2 separate regions of the Homo sapiens genome follow, and region 1 is reported to be linked to region 2. The links are microRNA targets in miRTarBase. Many come from high-throughput screens and were not tested one by one. Region 2 holds a microRNA gene; the other region holds the end of a gene's coding sequence.

Region 1 (4,254 bases), not on the chromosome of region 2:
GTGATGACGAGTGAGCCTCTGTGAAATGGACAGGTGGGAAAACAGCTACCTGCTGGCCTGCCCAGGCACCCGCCACGGGCCCACGCTGCTCAGCTTCTCAATGTGAGACTGTCCACACCTGCGAGGTGTGCTAAAGGTGCAGGTTAGGTGGACTGACCCCAGGACCTCCCTGACCCCCAACCAGGCCAGCGGAAGCCTGCCACCTCCTATGTGCGGACCACCATCAACAAGAATGCTCGCGCCACGCTCAGCAGCATCAGACACATGATCCGCAAGAACAAGTACCGCCCCGACCTGCGCATGGTGAGCTGGGGTTTGGGGATCAGGCTTGGGGAGACTGGCCAGTGCTGTGGGGAAGGGCCTCCCACTACTGGTTGCAATATGGGCTGGAGAGGGATGGATTCTTGCTTTCAGCCTACTCCCCACACCCAGCATTGGCCTAGGGGGCGGCTTGTGGAGTGTATGGGCTGAGCCTTGCTCTGCTCCCCCGCCCCCAGGCAGCCATCCGCAGGGCCAGCGCCATCCTGCGCAGCCAGAAGCCTGTGATGGTGAAGAGGAAGCGGACCCGCCCCACCAAGAGCTCCTGAGCCCCCTGCCCCCAGAGCAATAAAGTCAGCTGGCTTTCTCACCTGCCTCGACTGGGCCTCCCTTTTTGAAACGCTCTGGGGAGCTCTGGCCCTGTGTGTTGTCATTCAGGCCATGTCATCAAAACTCTGCATGTCACCTTGTCCATCTGGAGGTGATGTCAATGGCTGGCCATGCAGGAGGGGTGGGGTAGCTGCCTTGTCCCTGGTGAGGGCAAGGGTCACTGTCTTCACAGAAAAAGTTTGCTGACTTGTGATTGAGACCTACTGTCCCATTGTGAGGTGGCCTGAAGAATCCCAGCTGGGGCAGTGGCTTCCATTCAGAAGAAGAAAGGCCTTTTCTAGCCCAGAAGGGTGCAGGCTGAGGGCTGGGCCCTGGGCCCTGGTGCTGTAGCACGGTTTGGGGACTTGGGGTGTTCCCAAGACCTGGGGGACGACAGACATCACGGGAGGAAGATGAGATGACTTTTGCATCCAGGGAGTGGGTGCAGCCACATTTGGAGGGGATGGGCTTTACTTGATGCAACCTCATCTCTGAGATGGGCAACTTGGTGGGTGGTGGCTTATAACTGTAAGGGAGATGGCAGCCCCAGGGTACAGCCAGCAGGCATTGAGCAGCCTTAGCATTGTCCCCCTACTCCCGTCCTCCAGGTGTCCCCATCCCTCCCCTGTCTCTTTGAGCTGGCTCTTGTCACTTAGGTCTCATCTCAGTGGCCGCTCCTGGGCCACCCTGTCACCCAAGCTTTCCTGATTGCCCAGCCCTCTTGTTTCCTTTGGCCTGTTTGCTCCCTAGTGTTTATTACAGCTTGTGAGGCCAGGAGTTTGAGACCATCCTAGGCAACATAATGAGACACCGTCTCTAAAATAAAATTAGCTGGGTGTGGTGGTGCACCGCCTGTGGTCCCAGCTCCTCAGAGGTTGAGTAGAGGCTGAGGTGAGCGGAGCACTTGAGCCAAGAGTATGAGGCTGCAGTGAGCCCATGAGCCCCACCACTACACTCCAGCCTGGAAGACACCATGACACACAGTGAGGCCTGGATGGGGAAAGAGTCCTGCTGTTGATCCTCACATGTTTCCTGGGCACCTAACTCTGTCAGCCACTGCCAGGGACCAAGGATCCAGCATCCATGGCACCCCTGGTTCCTGCCATCCTGGGGTACCCGATTCAAAGAAGGACTCTGCTCCCTGTCTGAGACCACCCCCGGCTCTGACTGAGAGTAAGGGGACTGTCAGGGCCTCGACTTGCCATTGGTTGGGGTCGTACGGGGCTGGGAGCCCTGCGTTTTGAGGCAGACCACTGCCCTTCCGACCTCAGTCCTGTCTGCTCCAGTCTTGCCCAGCTCGAAGGAGAGCAGATCTGACCACTTGCCAGCCCCTGTCTGCTGTGAATTACCATTTCCTTTGTCCTTCCCTTAGTTGGGTCTATTAGCTCAGATTGAGAGGTGTTGCCTTAAAACTGAGTTGGGTGACTTGGTACCTGCTCAGGACCCCCCGCACTGTCCCAATCCCACTCAGGCCCACCTCCAGCTGGCCTCACTCCGCTGGTGACTTCGTACCTGCTCAGGAGCCCCCACTGTCCCAGTCCCACTCAGGCCCATCTCTGGCTGGCCTCACTGCGCTGGGACTCCGCCTTCATAAGGAGAGCTCACTGCTCACGTTAGTAGATGGCCCCTTCTCGTGAGGCCTCTCCCCTGGCACCTGCTTCAGTTGTCCTCCACAGCACTGATTTGCAGCCCACAAGCTGGCAGGTTTATCTGTCTCATGTTTGTCTTGTGCTGGTGGGCAAGGGGTTTGTCTAGCACACCAGCATATAATGAGATGCTTGATGAATGGTGCATATTGAATGTATAAAGCCCACCGGTCCTGAGAGTTTGCTCACTGGAGACTTTCTGGAGATGGAGTCTCGCTCTGTTGCCCAGGCTGGCGAGTGCAATGGCGCGATCTTGGCTCACTGCAGCCTCCACCTCCTGGGTTCAAGCGATTCTCCTGCCTCAGCCTCCCGAGTAGCTGGGATTACAGGTGGGTGTCACCACACCCAGCTCAGTATTGTATTTTTAGCAGAGATGGGGTTTCACCATTTTGCCCAGGCTGGTTTGGAACTCCTGACTTCAAATTACCCACCTGCCTCAGCCTCCCAAAGTGCTGGCATTACAGGCGCTCGAGGCTTTCTGATGTGGCTGCTGCTGCTCAGAAGGCCTTGTCCTTAACCACCTCCTTGCCTGCCCTGGAGGCTTGTGCCTCTAGGCCCCACCCCCTGTGGAGTCCTGCTGGCTTTCTCCATCCCTATCTGAATCCTCCCTGCTGTGTGGCCTCCCCTGGTCTCATCCGTAACACAGCCCAGCTTAGTGGGCCTCTGTTCCTGCGGGTGGCCAGCCTGTCTGTGTGGCTGGGCTGGGGAGGCCACGTCTGGTATCTGAATGCTATCGGTGGGTTGGGGTGGAGGAACCAGGAGAGGGCTGGAGGGAGGGAGATGGTCTCAGCCCCACAGAGTTTGGAGTCCTCAGTGTGCTGAGCAAACGTGGAGACACCATTTCCCTCCTCTAGACCTCATCTTGGAGAGAGAGATGTTGGATGGGGCCATCTATTCCAGCTTTATTCACACAAATCATGTCTGTTGGCCTGGAAATTGGAAAACCAGTTAAACCAAAAACATGATATTAAGAAAACAGGCAGGCTCACCATAGTAAAAATGCTGAAAGCCAAAGACAAAATTGGGAGAACAAAAGAAAAGCGTCTTGTCACATACAGAAGGTCCCTGATAAAGTTAGTAGCTGCCCTCATCAGAAACCAGGCCCAGGCAGTGGGGACACATCCAGAGTGCTGAAAGAACCTCCCCCAGGTCATCCTATCCCCAAGAGTGATGCCCGGCAGCATTCCCAGCTCAGGGCTAATGGTTCACGGAAGCCAGGAATCAAACTGCCTGGGTTCCAGTCCCAGCTCTGCCAGTTATGCCCAGCTGTGGGGACTTGGGCAGCTCGTTTAGTAGCACCGTGCCTCAGTTTCCCATATGTAAAAGGCCATTTTGAGTGCCTTTCACAGCCCTGCATAAGGCAGGTGTCTCAGTGTTCACTGCTGTCTCTCCAGCTCTTAGTCCAGTAGCTGCATGGTGAGTGAGCGTAGGGCGCACCCTGGAAGGCTGCCAAGCCCAAAGTTGTGCAGAGCGCTGGGGACTCCAGACTCCCCACAGCAGCAGAGACTCGGGACTGAGGCATCCTCTGTTCACAGGACATGCTGGCATCTACTGGGTCAGGGCTCTGCTGCTCGGTGGCTGTGCAACCTTGGGCAAGTTCCTCAACCTCTCTGTGTCTTCGTACCCTCATCTGTAACATGCGTGTCGATAGACCCTACTACTCAGGGTTGATGAGAAGATTAAATGTGCAAAACCTGCTTGACTGTGCCCACAAATCCTGATTGTAGGAATAAATTAATGACTTTTTATAAATATTTTGATCAGATGGACTCATGATCACAGATGTCTTCACATGCCTATGACTAATTTGTACACAAACTAATGCTCGTGTTTCCCAAGCACCTGGAAGACATGCCAGATCCATGTGCAGTAATGCCTGGTGGCTCCAGGTCTGCCCCGCCGTCCTGTGGGGCTGTGAGCTTTCCCAGCCTCCTGCCCGTGTTTGTGAATATCATTCTGTCCTCAGCTGCATTTCCAGCCC
Region 2 (4,254 bases):
CTTCAGGCATGGCCTGGGACTCACAGTGCAGGGCAGGTACAAAGAAGTCCAGAGCCTTGCAGTAGAGTGATAAGGCAGCTGCTGAATCCCCCTCCTGGTCTTTCTTCACAGCCTGCACCACCAGGGCGGTCTGGGGATGGGCAGATCAGGGGTCAGGTCCACCTCCCTACCCTCCCACACTCACCAAGATGGGAGATCAGCTCCCCTGAGCCCGCCCTCTGTCTCTGTTGGGTGAGTCACCAATTCACCACCAACGGGGGCAAGGAGACCTCCAGCCCACCCTCAGCCCACCCCAGCCCCAGCCGTCTGCTCACTGCTCGCCCCAGACTCTCCCCACTGGGCATGTGCTCCAGGTCCACCCAGGGGTGCGCAAAAAAGTCCTGGAAGGAGATGCGACGGCTGGGGTCCCGCTCCAGGAGCCGCTGCAGTAGGTCCCGGCAGTCTCGGGAGAGCAGGGGCCGCAAGGGGAGCTGCAGGGAAGGGAACGGCAGGGACAGATCACACTGGGCTCCTCCACCCCTACCCCTAGCCCAGGGGTCTGCGAGGAACCCCAGAGGTACGCGTTGGACAGGTGGGGAATCTGAGACCGAGGAGGAACAGGATGGGTCAGGATGATGGAGCCAGCGGGGAGCGAGGCCTCCATCCCTGGGCTCCCGGTGCACCCTCGCTGGAGCCCTGAGCTGAGCTAGAATCGTGTTTCTGGGTCCTTATTTCCCTCCCTGGACTATGCTCCTAGGAAGGCTGGGCCTGGCTCTGCTTTGCATTCTCCCCACAAGGGCCTGCAAAATGGGCACTGTGCTGCCAGCTGTGGGCTGACCTGAGGCCCTGGGACAGCCTGGCACCTCGACTTCCAGCCTAGAACCTGCCCCTCCACCACAAAGGCAGCCTGGAGCCCATACTCCAGTCTCTGCAGGTCAGAACGAGGTCTAAACCCTCAGGGCCCTGACTCCCTCTGCCCCCCAGTGGTCGCTAAGGCCCTGCTAGACACACCTCGATGACCCGGTTGCTACGGATCTTCTCTTCCAGCTCCGAGAACGACCTGGAGGCAAAGGGGGGCTGCCCGAAGAGGGCTTCTGTGGAAGGGAGGCAGAGCGGAGGCTGGGAGGGAATGGGTCAAGCCTGGCCTGACGCCCCTCAGCAGGGGCCCTGGGCCAGCAGTCAGTTTTCATCAGAACCCTTCAGAAGTGGCCCAGAGAGGCCTTGCCTGAGGAAACTGTAGGCCTCAGGGTGAGAAGCAGGGAAAAGAGGTCTCACCATACAGGATGACCCCCATGGACCAGAGGTCCACGCGGGCGTCATACTGCCGCTGGCACACCATCTCGGGGGCCATGTAGAGGGGGGAGCCACGGAGCACGTGCTTCTCATCCCACGGGGACATGTGTTGTGCGAAACCAAAGTCTGCAGGCAAGAGGAGAGGCAGCAGGGCTTGAATTCCAGCTGCTTCAGCTCCTGACTTGTAAAGCCTCACCCCAGGCTCCTCTCCACCCTCCAGACCCGCCAGGATCAACCCTATTTCCAAGCCTCTGCTCATCATTAGGCTGGAACACCCTCCTATATCTGCCTCTGGGGTATAAAACCTACCCATCCTTCCCAGCTCCCTTGGGCACCTTTTCCTAGGAAGCCCACCTGATCACACCAGCTACCTGCATAAGCCCCCACCCTCTCACTGTCCCCCCAGGCTTAGGTTCTATCACAGTCTCTGGCCTCCAGTGTCAATTATCCAAATCTTATCAAGGGTCACCACCTCCTACTCCCCCACCACACCCCTCCTATGTGGCCACAGATGGAGTCACAGACTTGAGCCCCAATTCTGATGACAGACCAAGTCCTGTCCCTGCCCACAGAGGGATCCCTGATGCTTGTCACACGCTGAACCCTGGCACTGTTCCCAGATTGACCCCTAAACCTGGACACACAGTGAGTCCCAACTCTGGCCACAGACTGAGCCCTAACTCCACCCATTATGCTGCTGGACTTGAGCATGGGTAGCCTGAGAAAGCTTCCACCTTTTGATGACAGGGCCCAACCCCAGACTTCACGGCCTGTCACTCTTTGAGGACTCTATAGAGGGCTCCATAAGAACCAGGGCTGCTGAGTGAGCCCAGGCAGAGGGAGGCCTCTGCACTCTCCAAACCTCATCCCTGCTGTTTCAGACACAGACCTGCCAGTTTTAGGTGGGGCTTCTCCAAGGAGCTCAGTAGAATGTTCTGTGGCTTCAGATCCAGGTGAGAGATATTCCGTTCATGCAGGAATTGCAGGGCGCTAGCTGAGGAGCAGGACCCACGAAGAGAGACAGTTCAGAGCCCATTCCCGCCTGCCTCTCGCCTCCCCGGCTCACATCTGCCTCCTCAAGCCTGCACAACCCCAGTTCCTGCCTGGCTGGTCTAATGTTTTCCATATAAGCACCAAGATCACACCACTTCTAGGAGTTTGCCACCCCACCCGAGTGCCCACCCTCCTTCCCTCTGCCCCTTCACAAGTCTCCCCACCTCTCAGAAGCTTCTCTGGATGCCCCAGCCCTTGAGATCCTGCTCTTTTCCTTGGCACAGCACTTGAGTCCTACCTACAGGACTCTGGAATGTTCTACAAGGTCCTTATATTATGTTCTATGTATGGAAGCCTGAACACCCCACAGAGGGGTTACCCCCTCATCTCTCCCACAGCGTCCTTGAGCAAGGGTTGAGTGTATGAGATAAACAGGACCATAAAATTTCAGGCTGTGCAGGAGGCAGCTGCAATGCGTGCCAAGGCTCTAAGCCTGGGGGAGGGGTGGGATGGTGGGGGGCAGAGAACAAGGGACAGAGTGTCAGGCTGGTGTCACAGGCCTTTACCTAATTGCTGCATGAAGACACGCGCCACCTTCTCAGGCAGAATCCTGCGGGTATGGATGAAGCGAGACAGGTCGCCCCCTGCGCAAAACTCCATGATGAGGTAGATATTGTCACTGTCCCACTGTGTTTAGAGGCAGAGAGGCGGCCTGAAGAGAGTGTCCCTTCTCCAGCTCCCTTTGGCAGCGGCCCCGCCCCAGGCTCACACCTGAAAGTCTTTCAGCTGCACAATGTGGGGATGTCGAATGCCCTTGAGGATCTCAATCTCCGTGAGGAGGTTCTCCACCGATGCCTTGTTCAGACTTTTCTTGGCTACACACTTTATGGCTACCACTTCACGAGTGTCCTTCTGCGAGACAGGAGATTTGGGGACTCTGCCTTGAGGGGGCCAGGACCCTTGTCTGACTGGAAAGGCTCTATCTGGTTCCCTCTGTTCCCCCACCCCGCCCCTCCCCGGGTCTACCTACTGCACACCAGCACCGGGCTTCCCAGCTTTCCCTTGTGAGGCCAGTGAGGAATGCTGATTCTGGAATCCTGGCTTCCCGACACAGCCTCAGCCTGGTCTTCTCCAACCCTCGGCTAGCTGATCCATTTCTTTGCATTCTGGAGTGCTCCCGGCAGAGGCATGTCACTCAGGGTTCTAGAACCGCCCACTCTGCCTCCCAACTGGCTCCAGTCCCAGACTCCTCCCAGCCCACCAGGTAACCTGTTTTGAGCCTGTTCTTCAGCCACTGACCCTGCAGGTGGGTGCAGGTGCGCTCTTTAAGACCTAAGCGTGGCAGTCGGCTCCAACCTCCGCCGAGGGTCAGCTGGGGCGAGGCCGGCCTCCCGCCCCTAACTATTCCCACACTGTCGCTAACCTCTCAGAGTCTCCCCGGCCGGCACCAGCCGAGCTAGCTCGGGCGGGCACGGGGCCATCGGCCGGCACCCACCTTGGCGTAGGCCTTGTACACCGTGGCGTACGTGCCGCTGCCCAGGCGCTCGGTGAGGATGAAGCCGTCCAGGCGCGGGGGACCCCAGCCGGGCCCCGCCATTCCGGCCGCCTGCGCCCGCGCGGGCGCTTCCTCGCTGCGGGCGGCGGTTCCGGCGGGTTGCGGGGCGGGCCGAGCACTGGGTGGCTCCACGCTGCCCCCAGCGCCGCCCGCCGGAAATGCAGCGCGCATCGGGGACGCGGATCCGCCCGGCTCCCGGCGCCCCTCCCCTGTCTCTGGGCCTCGCCGGGTCACGCGCCCCGCCAGTTCCTGCAGGGCCCACGTGGGGATACGGAGGCCCCGCGAGCCTAGAAGTTAACAACGGAGGACGGCCGGCGTGGTCTCCGGGGACTCCTAGCGGGCGCAGAGGCGTCTAGAGATCGCCCACGTGAGGGCGCGGGCGGCGGAGCGGGCGTGTGTGGGGGCGACGGCGTCCGGGAGGCTCCCAGGGCCCC

What was found. The annotated mature microRNA hsa-miR-6882-3p reads UGCUGCCUCUCCUCUUGCCUGCAG and lies in region 2 at 1,399-1,422, opposite strand. An mRNA with a match to its seed (bases 2 to 7 or 8) in the 3' UTR can be bound and repressed. Matches are read on the target gene's strand: a 7mer-m8 pairs with bases 2 to 8, a 7mer-A1 pairs with bases 2 to 7 and ends in A, and an 8mer does both.
Region 1: the mRNA of RPL28 is a reported target of hsa-miR-6882-3p. Seed matches in the 3' UTR shown: 7mer-A1 at 3,450-3,456.

Annotation. Positions count from the first base shown.
Region 1 is chr19:55,387,746-55,391,999 of GRCh38, forward strand. It overlaps RPL28 (ribosomal protein L28), which reads left to right. Exons shown (of 5, transcript NM_000991.5): 4 at 185-303; 5 at 498-4,254. The coding sequence ends at 587. MIR6805 (microRNA 6805) reads left to right here and starts at 436; the gene lies at 436-497.
Region 2 is chr15:74,839,244-74,843,497 of GRCh38, forward strand. It overlaps MIR6882 (microRNA 6882), which reads right to left and starts at 1,464; the gene lies at 1,399-1,464. ULK3 (unc-51 like kinase 3) reads right to left here and starts at 3,913. Exons shown (of 16, transcript NM_001099436.4): 1 at 3,761-3,913; 2 at 3,037-3,177; 3 at 2,832-2,952; 4 at 2,162-2,266; 5 at 1,255-1,398; 6 at 991-1,073; 7 at 315-470; 8 at 25-130. The coding sequence starts at 3,862. RefSeq lists silencers at 283-430, 3,675-4,254 and enhancers at 2,907-3,432, 3,501-4,254.